Linked DNA regions of Homo sapiens. The protein of the gene in region 1 purifies or fractionates together with the protein of each later gene. This does not show direct contact. Each region holds a gene or a part of one and is shown on either strand. Other genes may lie near its edges.

The links.
Region 2: the proteins of NCF2 (region 1) and CAMSAP3 purify together in Homo sapiens (affinity purification with mass spectrometry; 2 studies listed by BioGRID and IntAct, with this or other methods). This does not show direct contact.

What each region holds. Positions count from the first base shown.
Region 1 is NC_000001.11:183,557,239-183,559,590, forward strand, and holds part of NCF2 (neutrophil cytosol factor 2), read right to left. Parts: intron 1-2,352. UniProt on the Homo sapiens protein: Subunit of the phagocyte NADPH oxidase complex that mediates the transfer of electrons from cytosolic NADPH to O2 to produce the superoxide anion (O2(-)).
Region 2 is NC_000019.10:7,605,819-7,609,471, forward strand, and holds part of CAMSAP3 (calmodulin-regulated spectrin-associated protein 3), read left to right. Parts: intron 1-452; coding exon 453-575; intron 576-657; coding exon 658-753; intron 754-958; coding exon of another isoform or gene 959-991; intron 992-2,002; coding exon of another isoform or gene 2,003-2,050; intron 2,051-2,307; coding exon 2,308-2,446; intron 2,447-3,653. UniProt on the Homo sapiens protein: Key microtubule-organizing protein that specifically binds the minus-end of non-centrosomal microtubules and regulates their dynamics and organization.

The DNA.
Region 1 (2,352 bases):
TTCAGAAGTTTGTCTTTGTACATCTAGATCAGACATTAAGGCACTGGTGCCTGGATCCTGCCCCCAGAAATTTTGCTTTAATGTGTGGTGTGACTGGGCAGCAGTTTTTTCAAAAGTTCCCTTAGGTAATTCTAACTGCAAATCACTGTCTTGATTCTTCTTACAGGGTAGGTCGTGGACTGGAAGCATATTAGAAATGAAAAATCCCAGATCCAAACCAGAGTCAGAATCCATTTAGGAAGATTCGCAGGTGATTCACATGCACATTAAAGTTTGAGAAACACTTTGTAGATGAGACCATCTCATAACTTGAATGCAATTGAACTCCCCTCTGTCCTACCCTGACCGCTAAATTCTGTTTTCTGTTGAAGTGCTACAATATGGGTATTTCCTCAACTTAGACTTGTACAGATAGGTCATAGTAAGACGCATACTGGCTTCTCTCCATATCTACCCAAAAGGTTGTTTTAGTGTGTTCTTTCATTGTATTCCTGCTCCCTCTCCCAAACTCCAGACAATTGAGCTGGTTGGTTGATTTAGGCACCTTTAAAGTGGCACTTGGAGGTGTTCAACCCAGTTCTTCCCACTGAGTTACCATTCTCTCTTGTTGGAACACTCTGCTTCTATATTACTACTACTCATATTTTTTTTTTTGAGACAGAATCTCACTCTGTTGCCCAGACTGGGGTGCAAAGGTGCAATCTTGACTCACTGCAAGCTCCATGTCCCTAGTTCAAGTGATTCTCCTGCCTCAGCCTCCCAAGGAGCTGGAACTACAAGTGCACGCCACCACGCCTGGCTAATTTTTTTATTTTTAGTAGAGATGGGGTTTCACCATGTTGGCCAGGCTGGTCTCAAATCCTGACCCCAAGTGATCCACTCACCTTGGCCTCCCAAAGTGCTGGGGTTACCAGCATGAGCCACCACGCCCAGCCTATACTACTCATATTTTTAATTAATTGCTACACACTTGTTGTATACTCTCTCTACCCCCATTAACTTTTTTTTTAATTTTAATTTTTTTGTTTTTGTTTTTGTTTTTTTTTTGAGACTGAGTCTCACTCTGTAACCCAGGCTGGAGTGCAGTGGCACAATCTCAGCTCACTGCAACCTCCTCCTCCTGGGTTCAAGAGATTGTCCTGCCTCAGCCTCCTGAATAGCTGGGATTACAAGCACCTACCACTATACCCGGCTAATTTTTGTATTTGTAGCAGAGACAGAGTTTCACCATGTTGGCCAGGCTGGTCTTGAACTCCTGACCTCAAGCAGTCAGCCCACATTGACCTCCCAAGGTGCTGGGATTACAGGCATAATCCACTGCACCCGGCCTATTTTTATTTTTTTTAAGACAGAGTCTCGCTCTGTCACCCAGGCTGGAGGGCAGTGGTGCAATCTCGGCTCACTGCAACCTCCACTCCCGGGTTCAAGCGATTCTCTTGCCTCAGCCTCCCTAGCAGCTGGGACTACAGATGTGCATCACCACGCCCAGCTAATTTTTACATTTTTAGTAGAGATGGGGTTTCACCATGTTGGCCAGGTTGGTCTTCAACTCCTGGCCTCAAGTGATCCACCACCTCAGCCTCCCAAAGTGCTGGGATTACAGGTGTGAGCCACCAGGCCCAGCCTACCCTCATTAACTTTAAAATTTCCCCCTCTCTTTGTCTGTTGGATTTTCTGTTATAATTGATGGTAGTTTTTCACTGCTTTGCATTGGTAGTGCACAGACTCAGCGTATGAGCAGGGCTTTTATGATGGGACTTTTTTGTGTCGAGGTAGAGAATTAGGCTGGCAAACCACGAGTTGGAATGGTGCTTCTTAAGAGTGTAGGCAGTAGACCAGCATCACCTGGAAACTTGGTAGAAATGCAAGTTGGTGGGCCCCACCCCAGACCTGAATCAGAATCTCTGGAGGGTGGGCCCAGGAATTGATTTAACAAACTCTTCCAGGGATTCTTAGAACTCTCCACTTTTAAGAGGTGGGTCTTGCTGTGTTGCCCAGGCAACAGCCTTGAACTCCTGGCCTCAAGTGATCCTCCTACCTCAGCCTCCCTAGTGGCTAGGATTACAGGCATGCTGTTTCAATTTTTAGTCTGTTCATTACAAACAGAATCAAGAAAGTCACCAGAGACACAGGATAGTTCTGAATAGCTGGTTTTTAAGGCAAAATTTACCTACTTTTCTCTTTGAAAAGTACATTAATTCAAAGAACTATGGTTTGCAGAAGGTCATACAGCTTGATGCAAAGGCAAAGTGATTCCAGCCCAATTTGTTACCTCTGGGAATGAGAATCCATGGTTTCCAAAGCATACTCCTCTTTAATAATCAAGATGTTTATCGCCGGCCAGGTGCGGTG
Region 2 (3,653 bases), on another chromosome or scaffold:
GCTCTGTCCCTTAAGCTCTGTCCATCAAACCTAGCTCCTCCCACCAGTCCAGGCTCCTCCCCTCAAGCTCTGTTCATTAAGCCTAGCTCTTCCCCCCAGCCCTGGCTCCTCCCCTCAAGCTCTTCCCATCAAGCCTGGCCCCTCCCATCAAACCCAGCTCCCCAAAAAGGCGCTACTCTGGCCCTTGAGGATTTGTGTACACAGCCCACCCTATCCTAACGCCTAGCATCTGACCTCAAAGTCCCACCCATCGTGCGTGGCTTTTCCGGGACCCCATTTCTTGTTCCTTCCCTTAAGGCCCCACCCATGAACCACTGGCCCCGCCCCCTCAAGCCCCACCCCCCCCGTCAAGTCCCTCCCATCTGCAGGTTCTTCCTTTTCCCAGGCCCTTGGGGGCCGAGGTGCGCCTCCTGCAGCTCTCAGGTCTCACCCTCTAGCGCTTGCCCCCACAGGGAGCCCACCTAGCTGTCATTGATGCCCTCATGGCTGCCTTTGCCTTCGAGTGGACAAAGACCCTGCCAGGTCCCTTGGCCCTGACCAGCTTGGAGCACAAGCTGCTTTTCTGGGTGGACACGGTAGGTGGGGTTGGGCCTGGGGTGGGTTCGGGGACCAGCATCGTCCAGTGGCCAGACCACTGACCCCCTCCCTGCCCTCCAGACCGTCCGGCGGCTGCAGGAGAAGACCGAGCAGGAAGCGGCCCAGCGAGCCTCTCCAGCAGCCCCTGCAGACGGGGCGGCCCCGGCGCAGCCCTCGGTGAGGCCAGGGCATAGAACCGTCAGAAGGATGGGGGACCGGAGATCTGGGAGGGCAGGGCTGTGCTTCCTGGACACTCCTGAAGTGGGGAGGGGGCTAGAGGTGACACACTCTCTCTTTCTTCCCCCCTCTCTCAATCTCTCTGTGCCCTGCCCGTCCCCTGTGCCGGTACCCGCTGCCCTCCTCTCTGCCTCTCTGGCCTCAGTGCCCTACGCGCTGGTACTGGAAGCTGGTTCCTGTAAGTGGGGCTGTCTGTCCGCCCCGTCTGCCTGCCCTGCTTGTAGCTCTGTCTGTCTGTATGTCTGTTTCTGCCTGCCTGTCTGCGCGCCCTCTCATACCTCCCCAAGCTGTGAGCAAAGGAGGTTGGACCCCAGTCCTGGGAGACAGGGAGAACCCCTCTGTGAACCAAGAGAAGGGTAGAATCTCGGCCATTAACTGAGAGGGCAGACCCCTCCCCCAGCGAACTGATGGGTGGGGACGAACTTCCCCTCCCGTTATTCAGAAGGGCAAGCCCTCCCCGTTCCCATTAATGAAGAGGGTGGGACCCCCTGAACCTGTCCCCCTTAGCCGAGGTGGGGAGACCACATAAATTTCTGAAGGGGGGACCTGCAGCCCATCACAAACGTGGATCCTGACCCTAGCAGGCAGGGCACCCTCTGGCCAAGGGGAAGACCCTCCAATGCAGAAGAAGATAGAATAACTTTCCTAACTGAGACCCCCAGCTTCCCTAGAGAAAAATCCCAGCTTTGAAAAGGAGGAGGAGGCCCATCCCTGAAGCTGGAAGTTGAAATTTCTCTCTTCCCTGAATGAGCTGTGTGACCTTGCAGAAGTATCTAAACCTCTCTGTGCTTCATATAAATTACTCCCATAGTAGATAAACAAGGAGGAAGTGGGGGAGGTTTTGGGCTGGCTGGCGTCCCCACCTTTGCTCACTCCTTCCCCCACCCTGGGGCCTGGGTTGGGAGGTTCCCTTCCTGCCTACCCGCTTCCTCTGCATCCTCTCCCCAAGCTGGGGGCCTGGGTCTTTTGTGGGAGGAGGATTCCCCGCATAAGAGGGGGTTCCTACTCTGTGGGGTCCCTTGGGGCTGGGAGGAGCTGGGGTTCGCGAAGCCGGCCAGAGCAGTCAGGGAGCTGGACGGCCGGGGCTCAGGACCAGGGTCAGGGCTACCCCCTCCCCCCCAAGGTGGGCTTGGGGGCCCAGCAGGTCAGCACCCCTCCCCCTTGCTGATGGCTGCTCCTCTCCCCCCAGCACGCAATTGCCTTCTGTTTGAAGGAGTCGGGGAGCAAACCCCCCATGGTAATGTATCCCCCGCCCCGGGGTCCCAGGAGTCCCTGTCCCCAGCCCCCGCTGCTGGCCTGGCTGCTCGAAGACATCTCCTCTGCCTCTTGCTGCTGCCCCTCCCCTGCTCCAGGCTGGCCCCCCAACTCTGTCTCTGGGACCCCCAGCTTCCCGCCCCCTCATGGCGGAAACCCCAGGCCTCCCTGCCCAGCCTGCATGACCGCTGACCCTGGGGGCCAGCCTGGCCACTCACCTGACCTGGCTCCCATCTGCAGATCCGATACCGCAAGGACCGTGTGGTGGCGCGACGTGCCCCCTGCTTCCCGACGGTGACCAGCCTCCAGGACCTGGCCAGTGGGGCCGCGCTGGCCGCCACCATCCACTGCTATTGTCCCCAGCTGCTTCGACTTGAGGGTGAGTAAATGGATGTGGAACAGATCTTGTGCCGGGGAGCTGGGCATCCTAAGTCCCAGCCCCTAGACCCTCCATCCCCAGGTCCGCGAGACCAGCAACGATGCAGTGGTCATGAGGGCAGCTTCCGGAACTGGCAGGCCTGAGTTTGTGTCTCTCTCTTCCCCAATGAGCTTTGTGACCTCACACAAGTATATAAACCTCTCTGTGCTTCCAGGAGTTCATTCCTGCAGCAGATGAAACGTATGGAGTGTGGACTGTGTGCCAGACCTTGTTTTAGGCACTGGGGATCCAGCCAGAATAGAGACACACTCCCCACTTCACAGACGGCTCTAGCTGGGAGAGAAAGATACTAAGTTTATCCAAAAGTACTTTTTTTTTTTTTTTTTTGAGACGGGAGTCTTGCTCTGTTGCCCAGGCTGGAGTGTAATGGCATGATCTCGGCTCACTGCAACCTCCACCTCCCAGGTTCAAGCCATTCTCCTGCCTCAGCCTCCTGAGTAGCTGGGACTACAGCCACACGCCACCACGCCTGGCTAATTTTTGTATTTTTAGTAGAGACGGGTTTCACCGTGTTGGCCAGGCTGGTGTCGAATTCCTGACCTCAAGTGATCTGCCTACCTTGGCCTCCCTAAGTGCTGGGATTGCAAGTGTGAACCACTGCACCCGGCCCAGAAGTACTTTTTGCATACTGGGTAGTCCTAAAGGCAATGGGTGGTCAGAAAAAGCTTTTTTTAAAAAAACTCTTTTTTCTTTTTTATTAAAAAAAAAATTATAGGGCTGGGTGTGGTGGCTCACGCCTGTAATCCCAGCAGTTTGGGAGGCCGAGGCGGGTGGATCACGAGGTCACGAGTTCAAGACCAGCCTGGCCAGGATGGTGAAACCGTCTCTACTAAAAATACAGAAATTAGCCGGGTGCGGTGGCGGGCGCCTGTAATCCCAGCTACACAGGAGGCTGAGGCAGGAGAATCGCTTGAACCCAGGAAGTGGAGGTTGCAGTGAGTCAAGACCATGCCATTGCACTCTAGCCTGGGCAACAGAGCGAGACTCCATCTCAAAAAAAAAAAAAAAAAAGTATAAAATAGAGATGGGGTCTTGCTATGTTGCCCAAGCTGGTCTTGAATCCCTGGGCTCAAACATCCTCCCACCTCAGCCTCCCCAAGTGCTAAGATTACAGGTGTGAGCCACCACACCTGGCCCGGAAAAGCTT